Homo sapiens: one gene and its partner. The protein of the gene in region 1 purifies or fractionates together with the protein of each later gene. This does not show direct contact. Each region holds a gene or a part of one and is shown on either strand. Other genes may lie near its edges.

The links.
Region 2: the proteins of SLC8A3 (region 1) and SPPL2B purify together in Homo sapiens (affinity purification with mass spectrometry; 3 studies listed by BioGRID and IntAct, with this or other methods). This does not show direct contact.

What each region holds. Positions count from the first base shown.
Region 1 is NC_000014.9:70,185,845-70,193,239, forward strand, and holds the start of SLC8A3 (sodium/calcium exchanger 3 isoform D precursor), read right to left. Parts: upstream 3,108-7,395; 5' UTR 2,535-3,107; intron 1,389-2,534; exon of another isoform or gene 1,264-1,388; intron 1-1,263. UniProt on the Homo sapiens protein: Mediates the electrogenic exchange of Ca(2+) against Na(+) ions across the cell membrane, and thereby contributes to the regulation of cytoplasmic Ca(2+) levels and Ca(2+)-dependent cellular processes.
Region 2 is NC_000019.10:2,345,663-2,352,936, reverse strand, and holds part of SPPL2B (signal peptide peptidase-like 2B isoform 2 precursor), read right to left. Parts: intron 1,504-7,274; coding exon 1,343-1,503; coding exon of another isoform or gene 1,322-1,342; exon of another isoform or gene 1,280-1,321; intron 1-1,279. UniProt on the Homo sapiens protein: Intramembrane-cleaving aspartic protease (I-CLiP) that cleaves type II membrane signal peptides in the hydrophobic plane of the membrane. Functions in ITM2B and TNF processing.

The DNA of each region.
Region 1 (7,395 bases):
TGTTTATGAGAAAAGGGTCCATTCTATTTTATTTGCATCTGGACTTAGCACATGCCTGACAGAGTAGGTGGCTGTTGAATATTTATTGAATAAATGGCTAACCGAATGAATAAACAAATATTTTTCTTTTGGAGTCCAATGGACTCCACGGCCAAATATGGCTTGGCTGTGTCCCCACCCAAATCTCATCTTGAATTGTAGTTCCTATAATCCCTACGTGTCCTGGGAGGAAGCCAGGGAAGTAATTGAATCATGGGGGCAGTAACCCCCATGCTGCTGTTCTTGTGACAGTGAGTTCTCACAAGATCTGATGGCTTTGTAAGGGGCTTTTCCCCCTTTTTTTCGTCACTTCTTGCTGCCGCCATGTGAAGAAGGACATGTTTGCTTCCCCTTCCACCATGATTGTAAACTTCCTAAGGCCTCCCCAGCCCTGTGGAACTGTGACTCTATTAAACCTCTTTCCTTTATAAATTACCCAGTCTTGGGTATGTCTTTATTACCAGTGTGAGAACGGACTAATACAGGTGTATAATAAGCAGGGATGTGGCCTAGTCAGGGAGAATATGAAAGGCTTCCTTGAGGAAGTAACTAGTGAGCTGAGAGCTGAAGCTTGAGTAGGAGTACTTTAGGAGTATGTTGGAAGAAGAATAAAGCATTCCAAGCGGAGGAAACTGCATGAATGGCCTTCCCTTCTCCATCAAGTTAAAGAAAGAACCACTTCAACCAAGTTCAGTTCTATAGGCCTTATCTGCTTCCTCTCAACCCAGTATCTACATTTCATTTAAAGAAAAAGGAGGCTACAAAGTGGACTTGTGTGTGGGGACTGCTGCTGGGCATTGTAGATTGCAATGAGGGGCTGGGTTGATCAGTCCACATCTAGTTACCCTAAGCTTTGACCATCAGCCATCCTCCTTTGGAGACCTGCAATGCATGAAGGGGCAGGTTCCTCTCAAACTTGGATCCAGCCAGTGACGCCAGCAAAAAGAAGCCCCAGCCCGAAGCCAAGAGCCCATAAAGGGTGAACTGATCCCCCTATTTCAGGAAGAGCATGGCGCAGCAGCTATATTTGAAAATCGAGGTAAACAAGAGCTCAGCTCAAGTGGATGGGGCACGACAGCTGTGGAAGATTAATCACACGCCGCTGCAAGTCACCGGGTCGCCAGGGGCCGAGGAGGCTTCCCTTTTGGTGCCCCACCGGAAGGCCGGATGTGTTCCTATCACGTACCCACATTCCACCCCCGCTCAACTCCCTCCTCCCCCCACCCCCTTCGGGTGTTTCTTGACCACCCAGGAGCTTGGCTGCGCCTGCTGCAGTCTGCGTTTCTGATAAATTGAAACCAGTTTTAATTCTTCTGCCCGGGAGACCTAACCGCCGAATGCGTTCGGAGGTATGTTTTTTAATCGCCAGGAAAGGGGGAGAGAGAGAGAAAGAGAGAGAGAGAGAGAGAGGAAAGGAGGAGAGAAGAGAAGAGAAGCGGGGGGCGGGGGGAGAGAGAGAGAGAGAGAGAAGGAAGCTGCGATGAGCGGGTAAATTTATGGTACTGCATTAAAGGCATTTCTTCTATTTAACCCCACCCCGCCACCACCACCACTACCACACCGTTAAAAATAAAATACAATGAATTAAGACGAAGAACTGCTTTTTTCCCCGGAGCAAATTGCTTTCATCATCTTTCCCAGTGGCTCGGGTCCTCTGGGCAGGTCAGCCAGGGCCTGTAGGAGCAGCAGCGCTAGCCTCTGAATCAGGGCTTTGACTGTGTGTGTGTGTGTGTGTGTGTGTGTGTGTGTGTGTGTGTCCGCGCGCGCGTGTGTGTTGGGGGATCGGGGGAGGGTTAGTTATATATTTCGATTCTCTCCACCGAGTCCCGGATCACGCAGACCACCAGGGGCTGGAGAGTGCAGCACTGGAGAAACCCTCCTTCTCCCTCGCCCCCTTGGCCCCAGCGGTGGGTGCTCTGGGGCTGCAGCTCCCGACCCGCGGCGGTGGAGTCCCGAGATTGGGGTGAGCGCGTGCGTGCGTATGTGCACGCGGGCGCGCGCCGAGTGGATAACGCGCTTCCCTGCTAGCCCCCAAACCCGGCGGACACTCACAGCACCAGAAGCACAACACGCCCTGGCCCAGGTGGCACACATATGCCGACATGCATCCAGCACACACAACACAGCAGTCAGTCTCCCCAAACAGCACCCGCTACCAACCCAGCATGCTCACGATCCAACTGTACCCACCTGCCCAGGCATCTCTCTCTGCCCCTCCCCACCCGGCGGCACCCTCCTGTAGACACCCACTCTGCCAGATCTGCCCCCCCAACACTGCATACACAATGTACACTTTCCGGGGCACCCTCACCCCACTTCTCCTGGCACTAAATCCACAGGAAGGCGGTTCATATGAATGATCTTGAGAAATAACTTAACCCCGTTACTCACAATCAGGGATCCTCTTAGGGGCATCCCAAGCCCCCCAACCTCTACCTCCCATGTCTCGGCTGCCCGCTAAGGGGGAAGGGCAGGAGGCTCACCCCATTACTCACCGTTTCCTCTCGGCCTCCCGAGCGGAGTGGGCAAGGGAGGGGGGTGAGGAAGGTACGCGATGCCCCCGCCGCCCGGCGCCTCACCGGTCGCAGCGGCTCATCGCCCCCGCGGGCTGCCCGCCGGCCGCAGCCGCGTCCGGGGCATGTCAGTCCGCCGCCGCCGCCCTCCCGCCGGGGTTCGTGGGCTCGCAGCTGTCAGGGAGCTGCGGGGCAGCGCATCTGGAGCGCGGGGTCTGGGAGGGAGGGTGTCTGGGGCCAGGGCGAGGGGCCCCGGGAGGGGTCCTTCCGCACGGATTTCAGAAAGAGGGAAACCCCGACCCAGAGCGGTGACTGGAATCTACGCCCGGGAGAGGCCCGGAGTCCCGGCCGCGGGCGGCGGGGGATTCCTGCAGGAAGGGGCAGGAAGGCAAGCAGCCCGGCGCGCCCTGGCGGCTCCGAGGGACCTGGGCTCGGGCTTGCGGTCGCGTCGCCTGGGCTTTCCCTGGGCTGGGAGCGCGCCGGGTCTCCGCCTTGCACGCTGTCACCGCGGGAGACGTCTCGGCCTCGCCGCGCGCAGAGGGGACGCGCGGAGAGGCTGGTTTCTGGGCGAGCGGAGAGCTTTGCCCATTAAGCTGCCGGAAGAAGCCAAATCAAAAAGCCAATCTCCAAGCCTCCAAACGGAACGTCACCCTATCAGCTGGGAGACAGCGCCGCACTGACTGACAAGCCGCGCATATTTATCCTCGCGCGCGGAGGGGAGACTCTCAGAACGCTCCTCGACCAGCAGCGAGGAAGTCGAGCCCGCATCCCGCATCCCGCATCCCGCATCCAGAGCCCCCGAGGGACGAATTCAGATCCAACCCCTGCCCCGCGGCCACCCACCCTAGTCGTTGGAGCCTGGCGCCCGCGCCTCCCGGCCGGCAGCACGTCAAAACGGCGGCGCGTCCTGACCTGGATTCCGCCGAGTTGGGAGCTCCAGGCAGCAGGCGGGCGCGCGGCACCGGCTTTCCCCTTGTCCTCAGGAGACGCTGCCTGCAATTCCGAAATTAAGTCTCCACCAAACACATCTGTGGTTTTTAAATATAGCAGGGAACTATTACCCAGGCAGGGTCCACCCAGGCCTAGGGGAGGAGTTGAGGGGGATGGAGATTGGCAGCGGAGGGAAAAGAAAACTCCTTTTTTCCCCCTCTTTTTTTCTTCTCTTCTTGGTGCAGAACCCAGCCTGTCATTTTCTCAACCCAAGTCAAACAACAGTTTGTGAGAGACGCTTGGGTGAGCTCTGGTATGTTGGCTTTTCGGGTTTCTAAAGCTAAAAATAAGAGGGGGCTGCCTCCCAAATTGCTGCTTACTCTGGGCCTGGAGGCTGGAAGAGAGCTGGTCCTTTGATGCAGCAGCGGGACTAGGGCTTGGGGCTTGGCTCAGGCGAAGTGTACACACGTAGCCTTAAATCAGATGCCTGTAATTTCTGCTATATTTGTCAGGCTTGGTCCTAGAGGCATGCGGGGTGGGCAAGCCACTCCTAAGAATGGGGTTTCAAGCCCTCAGCTTATCGGTGGCATTAGGCAGATCTAAAATGAGCCTGGTGGCTGGCCTTCTGTAGCGACACCAGTGCAGAAAAGTCAGAATGTAAGGGCAGGAAGTTGTTCTCTTTCAGGCCTCTCTGCTGCCTGAGGCTAAGTGTGAGGGGCCAACAAATGATAATAATACTTACCAAATAGCAGCACCTTTTAAGGGCCAGGAGTGGTGCTAGTGAATTTGATTGTATTACCTCATGCCATCCTACTAAAACTCTGTGAGCTAGGTACAATTACCAACTCCATTTTTTTGTTGAGGAAATTGAGCCTTAGGTTAAATAACCATCCCAAGGCCACGTGCAGCAGAGCCAAGGATTGAAATAAAATGCAACCAACCGGAGTTGTGCTGAGACGTCAACAGTGTGTGTGACTCCTGAGATCCCTGGCTCCTTTGCCCGGCTGCTCTGGAGCAAGGCTTGGTTCAAACAGATTAAGGGGGTGTAGAGACTAGGGAATCTCTAAGCCTGAGATGGCAGGAGGTCTTTGCTGGTCCTTTGACTCAGTGTTCCGTTAGCAAGCTGTGTGGTGGTTTCTGGCCTGAGTCCGGAGTCAGAATCCTGGATGTGCTCAGTAGGAGCAGTAGGAGTGCTTTCAGACCCCTGAACCTTTATGGGTCTTGAATTTCATTTAAAGTTAGGGCTGGGACTGACTTTGAAAGGTTTCAATAGCTTCTAAAGTTGTGGGATCTCAGGATATGTCAGTTACTGGGACTTACCTTGTGTCTGCTCCCGTGGAGAGTCACAATGCTGAGTCTACACATTGAGAGTCTACAGTAGAGACAAAGAGATGGCTAATGGGCACCTAAATTGATAGAGTTTTTAGGTAGGGCAATTTTGAAAGATACATCAAATTCCTTAAAAACGTGAATGCCTGTGACCCAGTAATTTTACTGGAAGAAATTTATTCTATGGCAATCATTAAGGATATGCTCAAATATTTAGTTACAAGGATATTCATGGTAGTGTTTTTAAGAGTGAAAAATTGGAAACATCTTAATTTTCCAACACAACAAATTGGTGAAGTAAACATGTTTTGTTGACATAATGCTGTATTCTACCACTGTAAAAATACAGATGCAGCATTCTGTGTACTGGTGTGGAAAGGTTTTTATAATATATCGTAGACAGAGAGAAAAAAAACCCCAGAACACAGTGTAACACAGCATGTGCGGGGGTGGCGGGGTGGGGATGAATGCCCTGGCAGCATAAAAACCCCAAAATGGTAGTGGTTATCTCTTGGTGGTGGGATTTCTGGTGATTTTGTTTCTCTTTGTATCAATCAACTTTATTGAGGTGTAATTTACATACAACAACTCACCTTTTTTCTGATCTATGCTTTATGAAGGCATCAAAAGCAAGGTCTAGTGCACAGGCTAAATGACTATCTCAGTAGTGAGGAACATGAATCTGCAAAACTATCCCAGTAGTGAGGAACATGAATAATATTTCAAGATACCTGCAAAAACTAACTGATGATATTAAAATATCTGACATTTCTAATGGAGATAAAGTTACAGGTATCCAAACATCACTACTACTACTAAAAACTCACCTGTTTTAAGTGTATAGTTTGAAGAGTTTTTATACAAGTACATACATGTAGAGCAACAACCTCAGTCAAGACATAGAACATTTTCATCTCCCCCAGAAGTCCTCTCAGGCCCCTTTATACTCATCCGCTCTTCCCACAGGCAACTATTGATCTGCTTTCTGTCACTGTGGCTTAGTTTTGCTTGTGCCAGAATTTTATTTGTTTGCTTGTTAATATCTATTGATATATTTTCAGTGAACATTACCTATTCACTAAAACTGAACCAGCAACAACAACAGAATTGGTCATGTCATTTTTTTAGAACTACCAAACAAAACAGACAGGAACCTTGTCTTCCTCTTGTCACCTGTGACAGGGCAATGCTGCGGGGAGGAAGGCAAGAGGTGCCAAAGCATGTTCAACCAACGCTGTCGGCAGAGCTGACTTGCGTAGGTTCCTCTGAGTTCTAGGTAGACTGAAATAGCAAAGCCCAGCTCTGCATTCTGAGCCTCAGTGTCCTCACCAGTAAAATGGGAATAATAATAATTATTATTATTAATAATAATAATAATTATTATTATTATTATTAATTATTATTATTAATAATAATAATACCCACCTCGTGAGGTTGTTGTGAAGCTTCAGTGAGATTACAGTTTCTGGTACAGACCAATCCCCAAATATATATCAATTCTCCTTCTCCCCTACTTTTGTTCTCCCCCAACCCTGCTTCTCTCCCATCTTAAGTTCTACAGCCAACCTTCACGTGGCCTATGAAGTCTCAGACTGCTTTCAACTCTGGACATTCTCACTTCTTTTTTTCTCCCCACTACATGCATACAGGGTTGGAAAACATTAAATGTAATGACACCGTACTTGCATTTCTGCCATTGTTACTTATATCTAGCTGTACTGGAACCCAAGGAGATGTTCACAAGGAAGATGGAAAGTAAGCTGTGTAACATCAGCATTGGGAGCAAGAGCCACAAACCTCATTTTCAAGTTGGGAAGAAACTCAGGACCCGAGAAGCTACAGGATTCAGCCCAGTCACAGAGCTTGGTAAGAACTAGACAGACTCTTTTATGGACTGAATTGTGTGTCCCAAAACTTGTGTGTTGAAGCCCTAGCCCTTAGTACCCAGAATGTGCCTGGGTTTTGAGACAGGGTCTTTAAAAAGGTAATAAAATTAAAACAGTGCCGTCAGTGTGGGCCCTAATCCACTATGACTGCTATCCTTATAAGAAGAGGAGATTAGGACACAGACAGACAGAGGGACAACCTTGTGAGGACACAGCGAGAAGGCAAGCCAAGGAGAGAGAAATCAAATGTGCTGACACCTTGATGTGGGAGTTCTAGGCTCCAGAACTATGAGAAAATAATTTCTGTTAGTTAAGCCACTCAGTCTTTGGTATTTTGTCATAGTAGCCCTAATTCTGTGAGTCCTTGTCATAGAATACCCTTTCTCTAGAGGCTGAGCAGCAAGTAATAGGGCAGATGGGATGAATAGTGGGAAGGGACCACATGGCTTCTTGGTGGGGCCCCAGTATTTGCCATTATGCTGCAGAACTCCACAAGTCAGTGCCTCTCCAAAAGCGGGGCCTCAGGCACTTCATAAGCAGACGACCTGCCAGTCCTGGCCACCAGTGGCACTGCATCCCACACAAGCCACAGTGTCTCTTCTCACAAGCAACCTAGGTGCCAGCATTCCACAGCCCTTGGACTATACAATCTGATAGCAGTTGAGAAACAACAGCAGTCAAGTGGAAGCTAAAAGTAA
Region 2 (7,274 bases), on another chromosome or scaffold:
AAGGGAGGCAGAGGTGAGGCGGAGACAGGGACCCAGAGGAGGACCCTGGCAGGGGCCAGGACACCCAGCACCCGCAGGCCACGGGGGCAGGGTCAAAATGAGGCGCCATCCCCAGGGGCTCTGGACCCAAGGAGGGGGCCGGCTCCATAACCTACGGGCACCCAGGACCCTGTCCATCGGCACAGGTGCCGCGGGAGGGCCATCCGAGGCCAGCAGAGGCTGGGAGCTGTGCAAAGCCTCTCCAAAGAAAAGCCTGGACTACCGTCTCTCGCCCCTGGGCCTGGTCCCCGGCTTCTCCTGAACCTTCTGAAATGCCCATCAGAATGGGGAGACCTTTGGGGTGGGGGTGCTGGCCCCAGGAGACTTCTCCCTGGGGCCTGGTCTCAGGCCATGGTCCCATCTGTGGGACCCATGAGCCCAGCTCGGCACTGGAACCACAGCTCGACCCAATGCATCACACCAGTGCGGCAGGGACGGGTGTGGTTTAACCTCCACAAAAACATGACGTAGGACCCCATGCGCGGCCAGCACCGCTGAGAAGCGCGGCATCTCCCCCAGAGGGAGATCAGCTATGGGAGGAGCTGCACCCATGCCCAACAGCCTGAGGATCGCCCTATGGCGCAGGGCTGCTCCCTGGGCGGTCATGGACTCCAAGAGGCGCTGCCCGGAGGGGCGGGGGCAGCTCTCGGGCGCAATGCGCCTGAGTCCCGGGAACCCAGGAAGTCACCTGAGCGGCACACTGGAAGGGGGGGTCCCACCCACTCCTGTTCACAAAAAATCACAAGAGCAGAACCGACGTGGCGTAAGCCCTCCCTGCATCTCACGTTTAACCCTTGCCAACCACCCCCTGCCTTGCCAAGGGGGACAGGGGACAGGGCTTCCACAGCCAGGGCAGGCCTGCTCCCCTCGTCCAGGGCCCTGCGGCCCCACCCCCAGTCAGGCGCCTCGCTCTCGGCAGGAGAGGCGATGGATGCCCGATGCCCACGCAGGTGGGGCACTACTATTTGGGAGAAGCAACTTTAGAAAGGACATGGCACCCCCGAGTCCCAGCCGGCACCCCCGCGTCCCACCCGGCACCCCTGGGCCCCACCCGGCACCCCCGCGTCCCACCCGGCACCCCCGGGCCCCACCTGGCACCCCCGCATCCCACCCGGCACAGGAGCTGCACGCACGTCCTTCCACCGGGGCCTCACGCGCATGACACCCAAAGCAGAAGGTACCAGGACCCTGAGCCCCGTCGCGGCCGCAGGGCTGGCTGTGGCTGGAGGTCTCACTCAACTTTAACTCTAGTTAGGGCTCACTAGGCGAGTATTTCTCACAGTCAGAGCAAACTGGTATTCACCGCAAAGCCGCTGCCCGTCCAGAACACGCCCAGCTCCCGGCGCCAGAGCGCCACAGCGCAGCTCGTCACCAGCGTGCAGGGCACCAGGTAGAGGAGAGCGGGCTGGCCACGCTGCATCAGGGCCAGTGCCACGAATGTCACAAGGAGGCCAACGCCATAGGCTGTGGGGACAGAGGAGGCATCACCTCAGCCAGGCAGGCCAGGGCCACCACCCATTTCCCTGGGAAGAACGTGAGCGGGCTGGGGTTGGTGGAGGGCAGGGGTGTGCGAGGACGGGAGAGGTACAGTGGGGGTTCAGCCGGCAGGGCCACAGGCTCCCCAAAGTACATGGATCCTTCCGGCACCTCCTGGGCCACAATCCCACCCTGACCCTACCGGAGCCAGGGTCACCGAGGACATGGAAGGGCCAGGGCAAGGAGAGGGACAGGGAGGGGCAGGGTCCGGGCAGCTGCAGGACAGCGGGAGGCAGACGTGATAGCGGAGGGGGCTGCGAGACGTGTCTGGGATGCAGTTTCTATGAACCTCTGAGAAAATCAGCCGAAGGTGACACATGTGCCTGACCAGAAAACCCTTGAACACTGAGCTGTGGGCATATAAACTATGTTCTCAGGAGACACCCAGTGAAATGTTTGGGGTCAAAGGGCACGGTGTCCACCCACCGGGGCCGTGCCCCCAGTCCCCTGAGAACGCAGCCTGTGATTTACATACGTGTGCATGTAAATACACAAACGCACACATGGCCACCCTTGGCACCCGCAGGGGAGGGCTGCCAGGACCCCCTTGCTCATGTCCCTGACGTAAACTGGTGCAGTGTCTGCCTAGAACCCACCCGCGTCCTGCCAAACCATAAATCACCATAGGTTCCTACAAACGCAAACGTGATGTCGCCGCAGGCAATGGCTGTCGCATGGCATTGCTTCGGGAAAACTGGCCCAAAAAATCTGCATGTGTTCAGTACAGATAAGAACACAAATCTTTTCCCCAAATATTTTCAACCTACAGCTAGTGAAATCCACAGCTGCAGGAACCCATGGCTAGTGAGGGCCAACTGCAGTACACGGGGGAGCGTGAGTGTGTGTGTGGAGAGAGAGAGAATGGAATCAAGCGAATGAAAGCGTGAGTGTGTGTGGAGAGAGAGAACGGAATCAAGCGAATGAGAGCGCGAGTGTGTGTGTGGAGAGAGAACGGAATCAAGCGAATGAGAACGCGAGTGTGTGTGGAGAGAGAGAACGGAATCAAGCGAATGAGAGCACGTGAGTGTGTGTGTGGAGAGAGAACGGAGTCAAGCGAATGACAGCGCGTGAGTGTGTGGAGAGAGAGAACGGAATCAAGCGAATAAGAGCGCAAGTGTGTGTGTGGAGAGAGAACGGAATCAAGCCAATGAGAGCACGAGTGTGTGTGGAGAGAGAACGGAATCAAGCGAATGAGAGCGCGTGAGTGTGTGTGGAGAGAGAGAACGGAATCAAGCAAATGAGAGCGCGAGTGTGTGTGGAGAGAGAGAACAGAGTCAAGCGAATGAGAGCGCGTGAGTGTGTGGAGAGAGAGAACGGAATCAAGCGAATGAGAGCGAGTGTGTGTCGAGGGAGAGAACGGAATCAAGCAAATGAGAGCGCGTGAGTGTGTGTAGAGAGAGAACAGAATCAAGCAAATGAGAGCATGTGAGTGTGTGTGGAGAGAGAGAATGGAATCAAGCGAATGAGGGCGCGAGTGTGTGTGGAGAGAGAGAACGGAATCAAGCGAATGAGAGCGTGAGTGTGTGTGGAGAGAGAGAACAGAGTCAAGCGAATGAGAGCGCGTGAGTGTGTGTGGAGAGAGAACGGAATCAAGCAAATGAGAGCGCATGTGTGTGGAGAGAGAGAACGGAATCAAGCGAATGAGAACACGAGTGTGTGTGGAGAGAGAACGGAATCAGGCGAATGAGAACACGAGTGTGTGTGGAGAGAGAGAACGGAATCAAGCGAATGAGAGCGCGTGTGTGTGGAGAGAGAGAACGGAATCAAGCGAATGAGAACACGAGTGTGTGTGGAGAGAGAGAACGGAATCAGGCGAATGAGAACACGAGTGTGTGTGGAGAGAGAGAACGGAATCAGGCGAATGAGAACACGAGTGTGTGTGGAGAGAGAGAACGGAATCAAGCGAATGAGAGCGCGTGTGTGTGGAGAGAGAGAACGGAATCAAGCGAATGAGAACACGAGTGTGTGTGGAGAGAGAGAACGGAATCAGGCGAATGAGAACACGAGTGTGTGTGGAGAGAGAGAACGGAATCAAGCGAATGAGAGCGCGTGTGTGTGGAGAGAGAACGGAATCAAGCGAATGAGAACACGAGTGTGTGTGGAGAGAGAGAACGGAATCAGGCGAATGAGAACACGAGTGTGTGTGGAGAGAGAGAACGGAATCAAGCGAATGACAGCGCGTGAGTGTGTGTGGAGGGAGAGAATGGAATCAAGCGAATGAGAACGCGAGTGTGTGTGGAGGGAGAGAATGGAATCAAGCGAATGAGAACGCGAGTGTGTGTGGAGGGAGAGAACGGAATCAAGCGAATGAGAGCGCGTGAGTGTGTGTGGAGAGAGAGAGAACGGAATCAAGCGAATGAGAGCGTGAGTGTGTGTGGAGAGAGAACGGAATCAAGCGAATGACAGCGCGTGAGTGTGTGTGGAGAGAGAGAACAGAATCAAGCGAATGAGAGCGCGTGAGTGTGTGTGGAGAGAGAGAATGGAATCAAGCGAATGACAGCGCGTGAGTGTGTGTGGAGGGAGAGAATGGAATCAAGCGAATGAGAACACGAGTGTGTGTGGAGGGAGAGAACGGAATCAAGCGAATGAGAGCGCGTGAGTGTGTGTGGAGAGAGAGAACGGAATCAAGCGAATGAGAGCGTGAGTGTGTGTGGAGAGAGAACGGAATCAAGCGAATGAGAGCGTGAGTGTGTGTGGAGAGAGAACGGAATCAAGCGAATGACAGCGTGTGAGTGTGTGTGGAGAGAGAGAATGGAATCAGGCGAATGAGAGTGCATGAGTCTGTGTGGAGAGAGAACGGAATCACGCGAATGAGAACGTGAGTGTGTGTGGAGGGAGAGAGAACGGAATCAAGCGAATGAGAGCGTGAGTGTGTGTGGAGAGAGAACGGAATCAAGCGAATGACAGCGCATGAGTGTGTGTGGAGGGAGAGAATGGAATCAAGCGAATGAGAGCGCGTGAGTCTGTGTGTGGAGGGAGAGAACGGAATCAGGCAAATGAGAGCGCGTGAGTGTGTGTGTGGAGAGAGAACCGCATCAAGCGAATGAGAGCGCGAGTGTGTGTGTGGAGGGAGAGAACGGAATCAGGCGAATAAGAGTGCGTGAGTGTGTGTGGAGAGAGAACGGAATCAGGCGAATGAGAGTGTGTGTGTGTGGAGAGAGAACGGAATCAAGCGAATGAGAGCGCGAGTGTGTGTGGAGAGAGAACGGAATCAAGCGAATGAGAGCGTGAGTGTGTGTGGAGAGAGAACGGAATCAAGCGAATGACAGCGCATGAGTGTGTGTGGAGGGAGAGAATGGAATCAAGCGAATGAGAGCGCGTGAGTCTGTGTGTGGAGGGAGAGAACGGAATCAGGCAAATGAGAGCGCGTGAGTGTGTGTGTGGAGAGAGAACCGCATCAAGCGAATGAGAGCGCGAGTGTGTGTGTGGAGGGAGAGAACGGAATCAGGCGAATAAGAGTGCGTGAGTGTGTGTGGAGAGAGAACGGAATCAGGCGAATGAGAGTGTGTGTGTGTGGAGAGAGAACGGAATCAGGCGAATGAGAGCGCGTGTGTGTGGAGAGAGAGAACGGAATCAGGCGAATGAGAGTGTGTGTGTGTGGAGAGAGAACGGAATCAGGCGAATGAGAGCGCGTGAGTGTGTGTGGAGAGAAGGAGAACGGAATCAGGCGAATGAGAGTGCGTGAGTGTGTGTGGAGAGAGAACGGCATCAAGCGAATGAGAGCGCGTGAGTGTGTGTGTGGAGGGAGAGAACGGAATCAGGCGAATGAGAGTGCGTGAGTGTGTGTGGAGAGAGAACGGCATCAAGCGAATGAGAGCGCGTGAGTGTGTGTGTGGAGGGAGAGAACGGAATCAGGCGAATAAGAGTGCGTGAGTGTGTGTGGAGAGAGAACGGAATCAGGCGAATGAGAGTGTGTGTGTGTGGAGAGAGAGAACGGAATCAGGCGAATGAGAGCGCGTGTGTGGAGAGAGAGAACGGAATCAGGCGAATGAGAGTGTGTGTGTGTGGAGAGAGAACGGAATCAGGCGAATGAGAGCGCGTGAGTGTGTGTGGAGAGAAGGAGAACGGAATCAGGCGAATGAGAGTGCGTGAGTGTGTGTGGAGAGAGAACGGCATCAAGCGAATGAGAGCGCGTGAGTGTGTGTGTGGAGGGAGAGAACGGAATCAGGCGAATGAGAGCGCGTGTGTGTGGAGAGAGAACGGAATCAGGTGAATGAGAGCGCGTAAGTGTGTGTGGAGGGAGAGAGAACGGAATCAAGCGAATGTGAAGAAATGACCAGTCCCTCTGAGAACGGGGCACACGGGAGTTCTCTGTAGCGATCCTGCAACTGTCATTTGAAATTATTTCAAAATAAAGCTCTGAGAAAATTAATTATTTGCTAGAACACTCTTAAAAAAAGAGCCGCTGTGTCCAGCAAGCACACTGCTCCCGGCACTTTTTCTAACACCCATCTCTGTATTTCTGACGCCATGCCACGGGGAGCGTCCCTATTGGTCCATTTTAGGCCATCCACGTGTCCATCAGCCATCATCAACAGACGCAGACAGACACAAACAGGGAGGGCTGGCACCTATAAAGCCTCAGCGGCTTCAGTCTCAGGAATTACAGGGACAACTTGACAAGTTATGTTTCAGGAGAGACAAATCTCTGCAGCTGTGTTTTTATTTTTTCTTTCATTTTATTATTATTTTTTCGAGACAGGGTCTCACTCTGTTGCCTAGGCTGGAGTGCGGTGGCACGATCATGGCTCACTGCAGCCTTGAACTCCCAGGCTCAAGCGATCCTCCCACCTCAGCCTGCAGAGTAGCTGGGGCTACAGGCACATGTCACCATGCCCGGCTAATTTTTGCATTCTTCTGCAGAGACAGGGTCTTACTATGTTGCCCAGGCTGGTCTTGAACTCCTGGACTCAAGCAATCCTCCCACTTCAGCCTCCCAGAAAGCTGGGATCACAGACATGAGCCCCCGTACCCGGCCTCAGCCGTGATTTTAAAGGATAATCATGAAGACAGTAAAATCGGGCGAGGGGAAAGCCAGGGGCACCTGCAGCTGCAGGAGGCAGGTGTGAGGGGACAGGCCGGCCTGAACTCTCCTGGCCCTGGGAGTGGCCGTTTAGGGAGCCACGTGGAGGGCAGGGTCGGGGGCGTGGCTCGGCAGAGGAGGCCTGGCCTGGCCCTGTGCCCAGGAACCAGAAAGCACCACAGCTTCTTTCCTTAGGGCCAGCTGCGGTGGGGGACATTTTTCAAAACAATGTGGGTCAACAGATAACAGCACTTTGCGTAAATACGTTCATAACAAAAGAAACAGTAGAAGACAAGGCAAAGAAGAAAAAGACAAAAAGAGGAAAACAGGAAAGAAAAGGAAAAGAAAAGAACAGAACAATGGAAGCCAGGGAAAATGAGAAAGACGGGGACGGAGGCACAGGCCCAGGGAGAATGAGAAAGACCAGGATGTGGACACAGGCCAAAGGAGAATGAGAAAGACGGGGACGGAGGCACAGGCCCAGGGAGAATGAGAAAGACAGGGACGGAGGCACGGACCCAGGGAGAATGAGAAAGACGGGGATGGAGGCACGGGCCCAGGGAGAATGAGAAAGAGGGGGACGGAGGCACAGGCCCAGGGAGAATGAGAAAGACGGGGACGGAGGCACAGGCCCAGGAAGAATGAGAAAGAGGGGGTTGCAGGCACAGGCCCGGGG